2 linked regions of the Homo sapiens genome follow. The protein of the gene in region 1 purifies or fractionates together with the protein of each later gene. This does not show direct contact. Each region holds a gene or a part of one and is shown on either strand. Other genes may lie near its edges.

Region 1 (3,684 bases):
AACCAAGGCGCCCGAGGTGAGGAGGATTTCAATGAGAGAAACTCATCACCGGCATCAGCTGAGCCGGCTTCTCCCGGTGCCCTGATTGTTCCAGGTGCCTGCGCATCCCCCCCACCCCCGCTCCCTCACCGGGAAGCCGAGGCCAGGCCGGGTGCCTCTGGCTAAGTGAGCGAAAGTGCCAAGGTTTGGGAACTGTTCTGGGTCTATTACCCGTTAACTCAGATGATAAGTTTATTCTCAGAGCTGCTCTAAGAGGCTACCCACTGAGCCCCCTCGGCGAGTGCATGGAGAACCACCCAGGGATCTTCATCTAGGCGAATTGTTTTCTCCCCTGGAGCGTGTCCCTTCCCCCAGTCCCAGTGGTGACCGGGAGGTACCGTTTTGTTCTGCTCCAGAGCGGTTCTGAAAAATTTCCCAACCAAATCATTCCTACAAAAGATAAATTGATTTGGGGTGTGTTTACATAAATGCAGAAGACCAGTCGAAAAGAACATGGCTTGTCCACTAGAAAAATGTTGATTATTCATTAATAAGTAGATACCAGATCAAGTAATCAAATACATTAATGTAACTTTTCTCTGATACTGGTTTGACAAATACTATATTTCCTTATTTAACTGACCTGTTTTGGAATTCTTCTGAATACAGGTCAAAATTCAACATTGTGAGGAATTTTAAGTAGAGCAAGCACACTTTTTTTTTTACAACAATTACATTAAACTCAATTATGCTTTACAAAGATAGCTTGTTTTTCCTCATAGTGCGCCAAAATTCTACATTTCCAAGACCCTGTTTTCTAATAGATTCTGTATTTGCAACAGTCATAGAAATTGGTGATGGTAAAAACTAAAAACCACATTTAATTCAGGCTTCACGTTAGCCATTCCAGGTGCAAATTATATTACAGCATTGATTTGTAATTTGTGACAACGTTTGGTTAATACACCAGTGAACCTTAAAAAGATCAGAATTGTTACATGTATGATGTGAACCAGTGTTATCTTTTATGTTAACCATGTGCACTACCACAGGCTATAAATATGAAGCAATATTTCAGCAAGATAGAAGCTCCTGTGTATCTCCACATTTAGAGAGAAGTCTGAGCGGTTTCCATCATTATTATATTTTCTGCTTTCACTGTGCCATAGGAAGTGTCTGCCATTTCCTCTTCTTTTAGTTTTTTATAAGAAATATCTGTATCTTCATCTTCATCTAGAGGATCTCGCTTGTGCAACATTTCACTTCCATACATTTTATAGATTAAAACAAAAATCCCCGCTTCTGCAGACTGGAAAAGTGCATACAGCAAAGGAAACATGTACATGCTTCCTATGAATTGCGGTGGAAAGGCCAGTTTTAGAATGGCTGTACAGAGCTGCACATTCTGACTACCTGTTTCCAGACATACAGTCCTCTTGCAGTTGGGTGGAAGATGGAAGAGAGTAGCTAAACCATAACCTGAAGCGTAGCCTGCCAAAGGCATAAAAATTGCTATCACATAAACAGCTGCAGGGATACTTGCCAGCAGTTCAGGTCCTAACATAGTGCCGGTCATTATGAAAAGGACCACCAGAGTCACTAGCAGAGACCACAGGGAAACCTAGTAATAGAAAATTACAATGAGATGGTTGAAGATGAACTCAGGCGAGAGAATCCTAAGCTCACGGAAGAAAACACCCATCTAGTATGCTCTCCAACACAAAATGGAGACCTTTGACAGAATATTTCTGAAGATGGGCAGGCCACCTCTTCAGGAAGCATCCAGAGCCACATTGGGCAGCTCTGATTGTTTGGAGGCCTGTCCTTATGTCCAGGGACAATTTGCCTTCTATAACCTCTAGCCATTGAGTTGGATATAGGCTCTCAGGAGCGACAGAGACCAGCTCTTCAAAAACAAAAAACAAACAAAAAAACCCAGCTTTTCTGGCCAGGCGCGGTGGCTCACACCTGTAATCCCAGCACTTTGGGAGGCTAAGGTGGGTGGATCATGAGGTCAGGAGTTGAAGACCAGGCTGGCCAAGATGGTGAAACACTGTCTCTACTAAAAATACAAAAATTAGCCAGGTGTGATGGTGAATGCCTGTAATCCCAGCTACTCGGGATGCTGAGGCAGAGAATTGCTTGAACCTGGGAGGTGGAGGTTGCAGTGAGCAGAGATCGCGCCACTGCACTCCAGCCTGGGTGACAGAGCAACACTCCATTTCACCAAAAAAAAAAAAAAAAAAAAAAAAAAAAAAAGCTCTTCAAAAAAAAATAGCCTTCAAAAGCTTTTTTCCTGAAAAACAGCTCTTCAAAAGCTTAAAAACTGGTTATCAGGGGAAGGCTACTCTTCTTCAGGCAGATCATCCCCAAACTTAAACCTCCATCACATAACTTTGTTTTGGTATCCTGACTGTTCTGAGAATGTGTTTCATATGTGAATGTGCCTCTTAAAAACAGGGCATTTAGAACTGAACCTAATACCCCAGGTATGGTCTGATCATCAGAGCAGACAAGTGGATGTTTACTTTCCCTGAACTGAACCCCGTGTTTTCCATAAGAAATTAGTTCTCATTTTACATGAGTTAAAACTTGTGAAACTTGATTAAAATGTCTGAAGCTCAGTGTGTGATCTTTTTAACCCTCAAAATATACTGCAGAGGATTGCTTGCAATATTGAAACAATTACCTACTCTTAGATTATGTAAGAGAGAAAAATGTAAATAAATATGTGAAGAATTCTTTGCAATTTGGCAACTTTCCCCTTTTTTATTTGTTCATGAGAAACCTCCCATCTATAAGTCTGTAATGATGCTTACGTATTATTACAATAGATGGATTTCGGATACAGTACAACTGACTTCTGTATAAAACGTGTCATCTTGATGTTCTGACTGGTACATTTCACTCATTCAAATAAAACAGTCTGTATGAATTGTAAGGCGGAAATCTAAAAATTCCTCTCCTCGTTCTCCTTCATATTGGTAGTTAACTTATTTTTTTTTAATGAGGAGTGGGCAGGGAAAGGAAACTAGAGCCAGAGAGAACAGCTTAAATGTTGCTTCTGGTTCCCTGGATAGCTGGGATATCCCTTTTGCAGTCTTCGGGAATGGCGTAACTCTACACTCTTAAAAAATTATTTAAAATTTATCTGAGCTGGTCACAAATTCTACCCTAGAGGATGCTGCAATAATTATTATATAAGGTACAGATACTACAGATGCATAATTGGCAGAAACCAGGCTATTACATGTAAAAGCATACCATTTCAAAGTATGTCACATTGAAAGCGCTGACAAACAGTCTGATTTCTTCATTTTGAAATATTGGCTCCAAAGTCCCTTAGAACTATTTTAAATCATTTGGGCAAGCATTGACATTGAATGCTCATTTTGAAGTGTTTGCAAAGGTGTAACAATTATATAAACCGTTTCTTAATAGTGTGTTAATTAAAGAATAGGGCTAGGTTAACCTTAAATTCAAAGGTAGCTAATCTTATGTCTATTATATTTAAATATTAAATATATTAATTTATTAATATATTTATTTTAAATATATTTCTTGTTTTGGGTGTGTAAATAGGTCATTTGATTGACTTTCTCTTAGACTTCCTAAGGTTTTATAGTAAATGCCATCACATTAATAGCATTAGCTTAATGATTAAGATTAACAAGTTCTTAATGCATCTCAAGAGTATCTATGAGT
Region 2 (3,500 bases), on another chromosome or scaffold:
CATCTCCATCTACAACACAGTAATGAAGGTGAGGGGCTGGGTGATGATGGTTGGGGGAAGCCACCAAGCCCCCACAAACTGTGAGGTAGCCTGCTTGGAAACTCATTCTGTGGAGCCAGGCCGACCTGGGTTTGAATCCTGACTTTGCTGCTTAGTGGCTGCAAGACCTCATCTTGGGCCTCTTTGTATGTCAGTGTCCTCGTGCAAAAATGAGGACAGGGCTGGGCACTGTGGCTCATGCCTGTAATCCCAGCAATTTGGGAGGCCGAGTCGGGCGGATGGAGACCATCCTGGCTAACAAGGTGAAACCCTGTCTCTACTAAAAATACAAAAAATTAGCCGGGCGTGGTGGCTCATGCCTGCAGTCCCAGCTACTCAGGAGGCTGAGGCAGGAGAGTTGCTTGAACTTGGGAGGCGGAGGTTGCAGTGAGCCGAGATCGCGCCACTGCACTCCACCCTGGGTGACAGAGTGAGACTCTGTCTCAAAAAAAAAAAAAAAAAAAAAAAAAAGACAGTACCATTACTTAGCTCAGAGGGTTTGGTTGGGAACATTAAATGAGATAATAAATGTAAATGTAAAAAACCCTGCCATATATTAAACATTCAATAAAGGGTCACACCTGTAATCCCAGCACTTTGGGAGGCCAAGGCGAGAGGACCGCTTGAGCTCAGGAGTCTGAGACCAGCCTGGGCAATGCAGTGAGACTCCGCCTCTACATAAAATTTAAGAAATTTAGCTGGGCGTAGTGGTGCTCATCTGTGGTCCCAGCTACTCAGGAGGCTGAGGTGGGACAATCACCTGATCTTGGTAGATCAAGGCTGCAGTGAGCCATGATCATGCCACTGTACTCCAGTCTGGGCAACAGAGTGAGATCCCGTCTCAAGAAAAAAAAAATTATTTAGGTGATAGAGAAGGATTAGAGAGCTACTTCAGGGAGTGTGGTCAGGGCATCTTCAAAGAGATGACATGTAAGCTGACAGCTTAGTGACAACAAGGAACCAGCCATGTAAAGATCAAAGGACACACCTTCTTTCTGTTTTTTTAAGACGGAGTCTCACTGTTTTCTGTTGCCCAGGCTGGAGTGCAGCAGCGCAATCTCAGCTCACTGCAGCCTCCACCTCCTGGTTTCAAGCCGGGAGCTTGCCTTGTGCCTCAGCCTCCCAAGTAGCTGGGACTACAGGCATGTGCCACCATGTCCAGCTAATTTTTGTATTTTTAGGAGAGACAGGGTTTCTCCATGTTGGCCAGGCTGGTCTCACGCTCCTGACCTCAAGTGGTCCACCCACCTCGACCTCCCAAAGTGCTGGGATTATGGGTGTGAGCCACCATGCCCAGCCAAGATGTAGATTTTAGTTGGACACATTATCTAATAGGAATCTTATTTCTTGTGCAGTGGTGCGATCATGGCTCACTGCCTCAACTTCCCGGGCTGAAGGGGTCCTCCCACCTCAGACTCCTGAGTAGCTGGGACTACAGGCACGCACCACCATGCCTGGCTAATTTTTTTGTATTTTTAATAGAGACAAGATTTCACCATGTTGCCCAGGCTGGTCTCAAACCCCTGGGCTCAAGTGATCTGCCTGTGTCAGTCTCCCGAAGTTCTGGAATTACCATGATCAGCTAGGAGTCTTTTTTTTTTTTGAGACGGAGTCTCGCTCTGTCGCCCAGGCTGGAGTGCAGTGGGGCAATCTCGGCTCACTGCAAGCTCCGCCTCCCGGGTTCACGCCATTCTCCTGCCTCAGCCTCCCGAGTAGCTGGGACTACAGGCGCCTGCCACTGCGCCCAGCTAAGTTTTGTATTTTTAGTAGAGACAGGGTTTCACCTTATTAGCCAGGATGGTCTCGATCTCCTGACCTTGTTATCTGCCCGCCTCGGCCTCCCGAAGTGCTGGGATTACAGGTGTGAGCCATTGCGCCCGGCCAGGAGTCTTCTTTTTTGTTGTTGTTGAAATGGAGTCTTGCACTGTGGCTCAGGCTGGGGTGCAGTGGTGCAATCTCGGCTCACTGCAACCTCTGCCTCCTGGATTCAAGCAATTCTCCTACCTCAGCCTCCAGAGTAGCTGGGATTACAGGCACCCACCACCACGCCCGGCTACTTTTTGTATTTTTTGATAGAGACGGGGTTTCACTATGTTGGCCAGGCTGGTCTCAAACTCCTGACCTCGTGATCTGCCCACCTTGGCCCCCCAAAGTGTTGGAATTACAGGCGTGAGCCACCACACCTGGCCCCCCCTTTTTTTTTTTTTTTTGAGACAGAGTGGAGTGCAGTGGCACGATCTTGGCTCACTGCAGTCTCTGCTCCCGGGTTCAAGTTATTTATTTATTTATTGTTTAGACAGAATCTAGCTCTGTCGCCCAGGGTGGAGTGCAGTGGCGCGATCTCGGCTCATTGCAACCTCCACCTCCCAAGTTCAAGAGATTCTGCCTCAGCCTCCCGAGTAGCTGGGATTACAGATGTGTGCCACCATGCCTGGCTAACTTTTTTTTTTTTTTTTTTGTATTTTTAATAAAGACGGGGTTTCACCATGTTAGCCAGGATGGTCTCCTGACCTCGTGATCTGCCCACCTCGGCCTCCCAAAGTGTTGGGATTACAGGCATTAGCCACCATGCCCAGTCTTTTTTATTTTGAGACAGTCTCCCTCTGTTGCCCAGGCTGGAGTGCAGTGGTGTGATCTCGGCTCATTGCAACCTCCGCCTCCCAGGTTCAAGCGAATTCTCCTGCCTCAGCCTCCTGAGTAGCTGGGATTACAGGTGCACACCACCATGCCTGGCTAATTTTTGTATTTTTAGTAGAGACGGGGTTTCACTATGTTGGCCGGGCTGGTCTCGAACTCCTGACCTCGTGATCCACCCTCCTCGGCCTCCCAAAGTGCTGGGATTACAGGCGAGAGCCACCGTGCCTGGCCTAGGAATCTTATTTCTAAGGAACAAGGGTTCCATGGGGGAATTCTATCTTGCAGGGCTATTGAGAAGATCACATGAGATAACATACAGCACCTAGAAAATATTTAACTAAAGTGAGTTGTCCTTTTCTTCCATATCAGAGACATCCCTTTGGGATTTCAGGCATGTTGTTACTAGTTGGTAGAGTGGAGGTTGCTGTTACTTGTGAGGTGTTGAACTCATTCAGATTTAGTGAATGTGAATCTGAGGACTGGAAATCACCGTCTACTTAAGTTCACACATGTATCAAACATCACCTGCTAGTTCATTTCTCAGCCCAAGTCAGCCTTGGGCATTCCTGGCAGAGACAGCAGACTCAGCCCTTGCCATAGCTGAATGAGGTCTAGGAAGCTCAAAGAGGCTAGTTTCTACATTTATGAAATGAAAAAGTGACCACCTCATTCACTCATTCCAGCATTTGTTTTGTGCCAGGGACTGAGTTAGGAGCTGGGGATTAGGAGGTGGACCTTGCCACGGAGTCCTCTCTTAGAGGGGAGATGGACTTGTACCTAGACATTTACAGAGCATGTGATCACGGGCTAAAATGAGTATGTTC

What was found. Proteins that work in one complex are often made in the same cells at the same time.
Region 2: the proteins of SLC10A4 (region 1) and KDELR3 purify together in Homo sapiens (affinity purification with mass spectrometry; one large-scale study listed by BioGRID and IntAct). This does not show direct contact.

Annotation. Positions count from the first base shown.
Region 1 is NC_000004.12:48,486,343-48,490,026, reverse strand, and holds the end of SLC10A4 (sodium/bile acid cotransporter 4), read right to left. Parts: intron 1,601-3,684; coding exon 1,088-1,600; 3' UTR 501-1,087; downstream 1-500. UniProt on the Homo sapiens protein: Transporter for bile acids.
Region 2 is NC_000022.11:38,474,596-38,478,095, forward strand, and holds part of KDELR3 (ER lumen protein-retaining receptor 3), read left to right. Parts: coding exon 1-28; intron 29-3,500.